2 separate regions of the Homo sapiens genome follow, and region 1 is linked to region 2. A link means that fine-mapping ties the variant in region 2 to the expression of a gene that starts in the linked region. Tissue or cell type: subcutaneous fat. Region 2 holds a variant in brackets; the other region holds the start of a gene. All regions are shown on one strand. Distances are from middle to middle. Region 1 holds the start of CFL2 (cofilin 2). Region 2 has its middle 29 kb from the start of CFL2.

Evidence for each region. PIP is the estimated chance that this variant, and not a neighbour inherited with it, causes the effect. A credible set is the group of variants that fine-mapping cannot tell apart.
Region 1: it holds the start of CFL2, and the variant in region 2 is the best candidate, but not a certain one, in a credible set for the expression of CFL2 in subcutaneous fat (GTEx, PIP 0.87).

The regions. Positions count from the first base shown.
Region 1 is chr14:34,711,908-34,717,138 of GRCh38, reverse strand. CFL2 (cofilin 2) reads left to right here and starts at 2,546. Exons shown (of 4, transcript NM_138638.5): 1 at 2,546-2,601; 2 at 3,578-3,885; 3 at 4,003-4,079; 4 at 4,162-5,231. The coding sequence starts at 2,599. The coding sequence ends at 4,274. RefSeq lists silencers at 2,110-2,699, 2,790-2,849.
Region 2 is chr14:34,741,087-34,746,317 of GRCh38, reverse strand. No RefSeq gene overlaps it. Among named protein-coding and RNA genes, the nearest start is that of CFL2, 29 kb to the right of the region's middle. The variant G/C (reference allele first, on the strand shown) is at 2,244.

The sequences.
Region 1 (5,231 bases), 29 kb after region 2:
ACACGGTGAAACCCCATCTCTACTAAAAATACAAAAAATTAGCCGGGCATGGTGGCGGGTGCCTGTAGTCCCAGCTACTCAGGAGGCTAAGGCAGGAGAATGGTGTGAACCCAGGAGGCGGAGTTTGCAGTGAGCCGAGATAGCACCACTGCACTCCAGCCTGGGTGACAGAGTGAGACTCCATCTCAAAAAAAAAAAAAAAAAATGATGGGCAGCCTCTAGATGTTGGAAAAGGCAAAGGAGTCTCCCACTACAGTCTCTTGACTTTAGCCCCATCAGGCTTATTTCTGCTAGTTGTGGTGGTTCATGCCTGTAATCCCAACTACTCGGGAGGCTGAGGCAGGAGGCTCACTTGAGGCCAGGAGTATGAGGCTGCAGTGAGCTATGATCACATCCTGCACTCCAGCAACCTGGGTGGGCAACAGAACCAGAGACTATCTCTTAAATATATATATATAGAGAGAGAGACTTGTTTCTCTGACTCTGTAAGACCATAAATAATAAATTTGTGTTGTTTTAAACAAGTAATTTTATGGTAATTTGTTATAGCAACAGTCGAACGCTAATACATGTGGTATCTGACACTCAGATCCCCCTCCACTACACAGTGACCAAAATTCATGCAGCAATGATTGGCAATGCTGCCCCTTTACCAAGTGGTGGTAAGTTCTGGTTATAACTCACAGAGGTGAAGGCAGGAAGCTGCTACTGGCCCTGACATTCTCAGTGCCATGCTCACAAGGGCATGTAGAAAGGCTTCACAATTTTCAGAAGCTTCCTTTTCATTCTCTTTACAGCACTAAAGCATCTTAAATGTATTATTTCAGCACCTATTAAGCACCTACTATCTGTCAGGTTCCAGAAATTCAAAGATAACCAGGACTCAGATCCTTAAGGAGCTTACAGCGCAGTAGGGTGGCAGAAGACATAAACAAGTTATTATAATGTAACAAAATATATGCAAGACAAAAATAACTTCAGGAAAAGAATCTTAGAACATGTGAATTACCATCTCTGTTTGGGGAGGGTAAGAGAGAATGGGAGGCATGGAAAGGGGTTGGAGTCCGAGCTAGGGGGTGACTAGCATCTTTGGAATCCCCAGCTTTGGTGGGTAAGGTTCTGACACCCACTTTAGGCCCCAGTGTCATCAGACCTGGTCTCTGCTGGGGCTGCTGCAAATCTCTGAGGTTGGGAAGGGAAGGTAACCGCAAGATGAAGCGAACAGGAATTTGCTAATACCTACACATAGCAGATGATCAGAGCTCTGGAGAGACATTCTCCATGACTTCTTGGAAGTTCAACAGATAAAGTGAAAGGTTCCATAAATTGTAATGTACCAGCTAGATATAAAGTATTATCCACTTGCTTGGGATTCATGCTTAGACATTGGGAAATCCCTTCTCAATTTTTGTCTCTAAACGAAGTCTATCTTCCAATTAAGAAAACAAACCCAAGATATAGACAGAAAAATAGGTCTGTTTCAATGCCTAGCATGTTCCATTTAAAATACAGTAAATTTGGGCTGAAAGAACTTATCACGCAATCTAGGGCAAACACCATCTCATGACTTTCCTGCCTAACCTCAATCCTGAGACCACCAAAAACACACCATTTCCTACTGAACATTGATATACTCAGAAACTGAAATCTAAAGCTGGAAAGGGCCTTAACGATAATTTAATAACAGTTTGTTTTACACATGAAGAACCCTGAGGTATGGAGGAGTTAAGATTAAAAAAAGAGAAACTGCCTTGGCGCAGTTATATGGGCTTTGCTAGAAGAGGCTGCGTCGGCTTATTTGATATCAGCTGTCATAGCTGGAGCTTCATGAAATCTCTAAGAGAGAGTACAATCCATTTCCTATGAAGTCTAAAATGTAAAAGGATATTACTAAGGAATGCTACCACGTAATTTTTTAATCATAATTATTATTTCAACCAGAGTTTTGAAAAGTGATTTACCAACACTGCGTATCATTTTGTTTTTGCTAAGTACTATCAACTGGAGCAATCTCGTGTAGTATTTATTCTCATTTATCTCTAAACAACTGGGGGTTTTCCAAAAAGACTCAAAATGTCGAAATCCAGCCTCTTTCGGGAAAACCACAGGTAAATAAGGAAAGACACCTTCGCAGGAGTTCCCCTCACACGCACCCACCCCTGGCGCAGGGCCCTACGGAGGCGGTGGAAACGCCCCTCTGGGAGCCCAGCACTCTCTCCCACCGGCTTGACGGGTGATGCTCGGGGGCTGGAGGCGGCTCTGCCAGGCTCCCGGGCTCCGCTACCACCGCGTCGCCCCCCCCGGCCTGCAGGGCTCGCGCTCTGAGGTCAGGCCGAGGACGCGGACAGCCGGGGAGCCGGGGCCGCGAGACAGAAGGGCCGGCCTGGGAGCGGGTGGCGCCGGCTGGGGACCAGGCGTGCCCACGTGACCGCCCCGCCCGCTGCCTGCGGCCCGCCGAGCCCCGCCACCTCCCTCGGGCTGCAGCTCCCGGCGTGCCCCGCACTCTCCGCTGCCCACCCGCTCGCCCGCCCCTCCTTCTCCTCCCAGTGCCACAGAGCCGAAGCCCGAGCTGCCGCCGCAGCCACAGCCGAGGGCACTATGGTAAGACGAGCGCGCTGGCCGGGAGGCCGCGGCGAGGCGAGAAAAGCCCCCCGCACGGCCCCGGGAGTGAGGCCGCCATTTTAACCTGATTTTGGCCTCCAAGGTGGGCGCTTCTGCTCTGCGGCTCCGCTGCTCTCCAGCCGACCGGCCTGCCCTCCGGCCGTCAGGCCCTGCCCTGCTGCTCTTTGGATTTTGGGGGGCGGGGAGGGCCCGGGCGTCGGCGCAGGTTGGGGGTCGGGGCCGGGCGGGCGGGGGCGCGAGAGGGTCTGCGGACTGCAGCCGCTCGCGCCGCCTTTGCCCTTCGCTTCCTAATTTTACTTAACACGCGAGGCTTTAAAATTGGTACGTGCTGCGAACGCTGTGTGGGTCAGGGTCTGGACGGCCTGTAATAAAACCCTTACGGGGAGATTAAGGAAGAGGGAAAACACTTTTTAAAATGCTTTCTCGCCGTAAAAGCTTTTACACTCGATCAGTTAGTTTTGGAGTGTCTGCATGTGAGCTGTGTGTGGGCCGTGGGCGGTTTGGAGTTTACACTTGATTCTCTTTCCTTATGAGGAAACGTCAGTGGCTAGGATGACTTTAAAGAAAAAAATAGTAGAAGCATTAACTGAAATCCAAAAGTGTTTTTTTAAGGCCAGCCGAGTTGACACAATACAGAAGGTATTTTTGCTGCCACTCCTGAAGCTCTGACATCACCCAGTGAAATAGGAAACATTTCAGGGATGGGACAACTTGTATTTGTCCCTTTCGCTTCCACGTCCAAACCCCTTTAAGAAGGATGAATGGGCAGGATGAGTTAGACTCCTTCGCTGTATCGTCTACTGATTCTTAAAATGTGACAAATCTGATTGGACGACTTACATGGTACGGTGCAATTTTTGATGTCCAGACTAAAGTGAGTCTTCTCTAGGCAAACAGTAATTTTGGTTAAAACCAAAATACGTGTTCTGAATTACTGTTCTGTGTTTATTTTCAGGCTTCTGGAGTTACAGTGAATGATGAAGTCATCAAAGTTTTTAATGATATGAAAGTAAGGAAATCTTCTACACAAGAGGAGATCAAAAAGAGAAAGAAAGCAGTTCTCTTCTGTTTAAGCGATGACAAAAGACAAATAATTGTAGAGGAAGCAAAGCAGATCTTGGTGGGTGACATTGGTGATACTGTAGAGGACCCCTACACATCTTTTGTGAAGTTGCTACCTCTGAATGATTGCCGATATGCTTTGTACGATGCCACATACGAAACAAAAGAGTCTAAGAAAGAAGACCTAGTATTTATATTCTGGTGTGTAAAAACAAAAGAAAAAAGTACTTTTAAAATGCAAGGATTATTATTATCATAGTCAGTCTTACCTTTGTTTTTCTTATAAATGGGATTCAATAATTTTTTTTTTTTCTGTAGGGCTCCTGAAAGTGCACCTTTAAAAAGCAAGATGATTTATGCTAGCTCTAAAGATGCCATTAAAAAGAAATTTACAGGTACAAACTTGAATATTTGGGGCAGAGAAATTATTCTTTATTAATTATAATAAAGTAATAGGATAATGTTTTTTCTTTTTAGGTATTAAACATGAGTGGCAAGTAAATGGCTTGGATGATATTAAGGACCGTTCGACACTTGGAGAGAAATTGGGAGGCAATGTAGTAGTTTCACTTGAAGGAAAACCATTATAAAATGACAGTCAAGTGCCATCTGGATCTTAAGGAGCTTCCATTTCTCCAGCTCAGTCCATTGGAATAGTATTAGGTTTTGGTTTTTTGTTGTATTTCCCCCTTTCCACTGGGCCCTTCCAACACAATGAATGAAGGAAATATCATTTATTTAAGCAGCCTATCAGTGATTGCCATTAGACTGTTGAATACTGTTACTTTTATATAGAACCCAAGGAATGCCTTCCTGTCATATTTTAGCCAAAACAACTGGTTATATGCCTCCCTTGCAGCAAGCACTACAATGTATGTGATCGTCAATGTGAATAGCTTAGAATACTGCAAAGGATAAGCTAATTGAATGCCTTGAAAGTATTATCCACTGGTCAGATGGTCAACTTTTTTCAGTATTATTTATAGTTGGCACTTGATTGCAGTTCTGTGAGGCTTGAGCATTCATACACCTCACCTGCCTTGGCAAGCCTATTTTAGTGATATGGCAGCACGGATATAACACTATGCATTAAAAGCACTTTTTGTAATAAGTTTAATATCCTAAAAGGAATGCCAATTAAGTTTTGTTAACTGTGTCATCAACTTATCCTAGTACCTCAGTGTTCATTCCTGTTACCTGCATATCTTCTTAAAAGAAATAGCTGTTATTAATGCCTTTTTGTTTTCCATTGAGTGTACACTACTGAATAAGTGTAGGAGTTTTATGTTTACCATGTGAGTCCTGCAACACTAAAGATATTTTGAATATCAGTCATGATGGCAATTTCTGTATAAAAGAGCCTTAAATGGAACATTGTTTTGAGATCAAACTCCCCACCCTCACAAAAATGGCCACGTTGCAATAAAAATTGTGGCATATTACAGAACGTTGCCTTGTTTTCCTTGGAAATTTTGCAAAATGTTATGTGAAACAACTTCTAGGGTAAAAACAGCTATTACTAATCTCTGCACTGGTCATTTGAGAAT
Region 2 (5,231 bases):
TTCTGGTAAGACGAAGCAGGCATCTTCTCTCCTATTCCTCCCACTCAGTATAGCTAAAAACCCTGGACGTTCTATATAAAACAAAAATAAGACTGAAAGGTGACAATAAGTCAGACTGACTAAAGGACCTTGGGACCAGAGGAAAGACAGTGGTAAGTTCCCTAGGTTTTCTTTTTGACTTATATATCAGACTTGATGCTAAAGAAGCGGAAACTTGAAAATGCCAAGTGGCACAGACGAAGTGTAAAGCCACAACAAAAGCCTCTCTAGCCAAAGAACTAGGACAGGGGCAGCCTAATAAGACAGAAAACCTAGACAATAACCACTATCCCAGCCAAACACCACAAAAAACAAACCAACCAACCAACCCTGGCCCTACCCATATCCACACCAACAAAGAACAAGCAGGGAGTCTACACTTCCATCCCCAGAAGGATAAAATGAGGCGGTACAGTGCACCCACCGGAGTGGTGTCAGAGAAGTAAGGAACAAGAAAGGCAAAGTAAGGAACCTGGCCTTTCATCCCTGCTGGCAGAAATGAGATACCCCCAATCCCTCCCAGTGTCAGTACAGACCGTCTGGGGGGCTGATTCACACATCTGCCCACCAATAGCAAGGAGCACCCCCTTTCTGGTGTCAAAGAGGCTGGCAGGAGAACTTGGACTTCTACTTGTATCTGGCAGTTACAAGGAAGCAACCCAGCTTTCTTTGCCAGAATGGTGTCACAGAAAGCCAGCTAAAACTAGGTTTAAATAAGGTATTAAGTCTCATCATGGGCTGGGCATGGTGGCTCATGACTGGAATCCCAGCACTTCGGGAGGCCAAAGCCGGCCAAACCCAGGAGTTCGACACCAGCTTGGGCAATATGGCAAAACCTGTCTCTACAAAAAATACAAAAATTAGCTGGGCATGCTGGCACATGCCTGTGGTCCCAGCTACTCGGGAGGCTGAGGTGGGAGAATCGCTTGAGTGTGGGAGGTGGGGGTTGCAGTGAGCCGAGAGCAAGCCACTGCACTCCAGCCTGAATGACAGATTGAGACCCAGACATTTTTATACTGTTATGAGACTTTATTTTTATTTTTTTGCAACAAAAAATAAAAGGCTCATAACAATACGAAAATGTCCGCATTTCAATAAAAAATCATTCATACGAAGAACCAAGAAGATTGAAACTGAATGAAAAAAAAGATGTCAACACCAAAATGACATGTTAGAACAATTGACAAAGATTTTAAAGCAGCCATGATGAAAATGCTTCAATGAGCAATTATGAACATCCCTGAAACAAATAAAGTAGCTTCAGTGTACTAGTTTCCTATTGCTGCCATAACAAATCACCACAAATTCACCAGCTTAATGCAGATTCGTTAGCTGTAGGTTAGAAGTCTGACATGGGTCTTAACTGGGCTAAATCAATTTGTCCACAAGGCTGTTACTTTGTAGAGACCCTAAGGGAGAATCTATTTCCTCGCTCCTTCCAGCTTCTACCCACATTCCTCGGCATGTAGCCCTCTTCCTCCATCTTCAAAGCCAGCAACATGACATCTCTGTGCCTTTCTGTCACATCTTCCTCTAACCACAAGCAGGAAAGTTTCTCTGATTTTAAGGACCCATGTAATTAGATTGCACCCACCAGACAATCCAAGCTAATCCCCCTGTTCAAATCCTCAAGCACATTATTTTAAAGTTTATTTTGCCATGTAGAGTAACATATTCACAGTTCCAGGGATTAAGACATGGACATCTTTGGAGGACCATTCTGCCTACTGCACTCAGCAAAGAAATACAAAGTCTCAGAATACAGAAGTTATGAAGAAGAACCAAATGGAAAATTTAGGGCACAGTAACCAAAAGAAAAATCTCAGTGGATGGACCCAACAGGACAATGGAGGAGAGAGAGGAAAGAATCAGTAAACTAGAATACATATTACCCAATCTGAGCAACAGAGAAAAAACAGATTGAACAAAATTGAACATGACCTTAGGGAACTATAATAAAAAAAAAACTAACATTCATGTCATCAGAGTTGCCAAAGCAGAGGAGAAAAAAGGTGGGACTAACAAAGCCCTCAAAGAAATAACTCAAAATTCCCCAAGAGACAACCCACAGATTCAAGAAGGTGAACAAACTCTGAAAAGGATAAACCCAAAGAAATCCATGCCAAGACATCATAATTAATTTTCTGAAAACTAAAGACAAAAAAATCTTGAAAATAGCCAGCAGAAAATGAGTGACATTTTAC[G/C]TATAAGGGGAAATCAATTAGAACACACTAGAAAATGGTGGGAGAAAGAAGTGGCGCAATATTTTTCAGGAACAAACTGTTCGAGTTTTGTTCAAAAACAAAACTGTTGGCCGGGCACAGTGGCTCACGCCTGTAATCCCAGCACTCTGGGAGGCCAGGGCGGGTAGATCACTTGAGGTCAGGATTTCGAGACCAGCCTGGCCAACATGGTGAAACCCCATCTCTACTAAAAATACAAAAATTAGCCGGGCATGGTGGCATGCACCTGTAATCCCAGCTACTCAGGAGGCTGAGACAGGAGAATCACTTGAACCCAGAGGTAGAGGTTACAGTGAGCCAAGATTACACTACTGCACTCCAGCCTGGGCAACAAGAGTGAGATTCTTTCTCAAAAAAAAAAAAAAAAAAAAAAAGGCCAGGCGTGGTGGCTCCCGCCTATAATCCCAGCACTTTGGGAGGCTGAGGTGGGCAGATCATGAGGTCAGGAGATCAAGACCATCCTGGCTAACACGGTGAAACCCCATCTCTACTAAAAATACAAAAAATTAGCCAGGAGTGGCGGCAGGCACCTGTAGTCCCAGCTACTTGGGAGGCTGAGGCAGGAGAATGGCGTCAACCCGGGAGGCAGAGGTTGCAGTGAGCCGAGATCATGCCACTGCACTCCAGCCTGGGCGACAGAGCGAGACTCCATCTAAAAATAAAAATTAAAAAAAAGAAGTTATCTAGGCTGGGTGGAGTAGCTCACACCTCTAATCTCAGCACTTTGGGAAGCTGAGTTAGGATGATCATTTGAGCTCAGGAGTTCGAGATCAGCCTGGGCAATATGGTGAAACACTGTCTCTACAAAAAATACAAAAATTAGCCAGGAGTGGTGGCTCATGCCTGTGGCCCCAGGTACTTGGGAGGCTGAGACAGAAGTATCACTTGAACCCAGGAAGTAGTGGTTGCAATAAGCTGAGATCTGGTCATTGCACTCCAACCTGGACACTAGACAGAGACACTGTCTCAAAAAAAAAAAAGAGAGAGAGAGAGATTGGCCAAGAACTATGAGTTGTGGGTAGGGAGGGCTGAATAAATAAGAGTGCAGGGGATTTTTTTTTTTTAAATACAGGGTCTCACTCTGTCACCAGGCTGGAATGCAGTGGCACAATCTCAGCTCGCTGCAGCCTCAAACTCCCCAGATTCAGGTGACCCTCCCACCTCAGTCTCCTGAGTAGCTAGGACCACAGGCACACGCCACCATGCCCGGCTAATTTTTGTATTTTTGGTAGAGATGGGGTTTCGCCATGTTACCCAGGCTGGTTTCGAAATCCTCAGCTCAAGCGACCCACCTGCCTTGGCCTCCCAAAGTGCTGCAATGATGGCACCCAGCCAAGAATGTTAACCTGAAGTGTGCATGCGTTTAGGGCCACAAAATATATGAAGCAAAAGCTGATAGAACTGAAAGGAGAAATAGACAAACCTACAGTTACAGACGGAGACTTCAACACTTCCCTCTTAACAATTACTAGAACAACTAGGCAGAAAATCAGCAATGATATAAAAGAACTAAACAATAACATCAACCAGTAACATACAGGCTTAGAAAAACTCCACCCAACAACAGAACACAACAACAGAACATACACCAAGACAGATCATATCCTGGGCCATAAAACAAACCTTAAATTTAAAAGAACTGAAATTATGTAAAATGTAATCTGTGGCCACAATGAAATCAAACTAGAAATCAATAATGGAAACATAACAGGAAAATCTCCAAACTAAACAAAATACTTTTAGATAATCCATGGGTCAAAGAGGAGGTAAAAAAAATTGAGAAAAAAAAAGAGAATACAATAAACAAAATGAAAAAATAGATATATTTTCCCCCAAGCTATATGCTTCTACCTTAATACTCTTCCTCTATTTCATTTCAGGTTTTTTCACTCTAAAGTCTAAACTAACTAGGTCAGAGTCTTCAAAGTATTGCATTTGTTTAACTGGCATAATAATGCTATCTCAGCATAAACTATGGTAAAGGTTCCACCAGTCCAGGCCATTTTTGACAACTTCTTGGAAGGAAATGGGCAAACCACAAATCAAAAGAACATCCGCATCTGAAAATCCACCCTGTATAATAGTAGAAGGCAAGAGATCTGTAACTAAAGCTAGTTATAAGTTGATGGACTCACTATGAACAATTTGGCTACATCTGGTAGAATTACAGAAAGCATGTAGAGTTCACATGTGTTAGAAATCCTAGAAGATCAAAGACTCTTAGCTTGAACTCTTTCTTAGTAGAGCTAAAAATGTATGTCACTCGGCCAGGCACGGTGGCTCACGCCTGTAACCCCAGCACTTTCGGAGGCCAAGGCAGGAGAATCACAACGTCAGGAGTTCAAGACCAGCCTGGCCAACATGGTGAAACCCCGTCTCTACTAAAAACACAAAAATTAGCTGGGCGTGGTGGCATGCACCTATAATCCCAGCTACTCAGGAGGCTGAGGCAGGAGAATTGCTTGAACCCGGGAGGCAGAGGTTGCAGTGAGCCGAGATCACGCCACTGCACTCCAGCCTGGGTGACAGAACAAGACCCTGTCTTGGAAAAAAAAAAAAAAAAAGTGAAGACCATGGGAAAGGCGCAGTATCTGGCCTGGAGTGCAGTGTTCCTCATGGCACAGTCCCTTAGTGGGACTTCCTTGGCTAGGGGAGGGAGTTCCCCAACCCCTTGTGCTTCCCAGGTGAGGCAACACCCCACCCTGCTTCGGCTTGCTGTCTGTCGGCTGCACCCACTGTCCAACCAGTCCCAATGAGATAAATCAGGTACCTCAGGTGGAAATGCAGAAATCACCCACCTTCCACATCAGTCTCGCTGGGAGCTGCAGACCAGAGCTGTTCCTATTTGGCCATCTTGCCAACAATTCCCTTAAGAAACTCACTCAAAACCACACAACTACATGGAAACTGAACAACCTGCTCCTGAATGAGTACTGGGTAAATAACGAA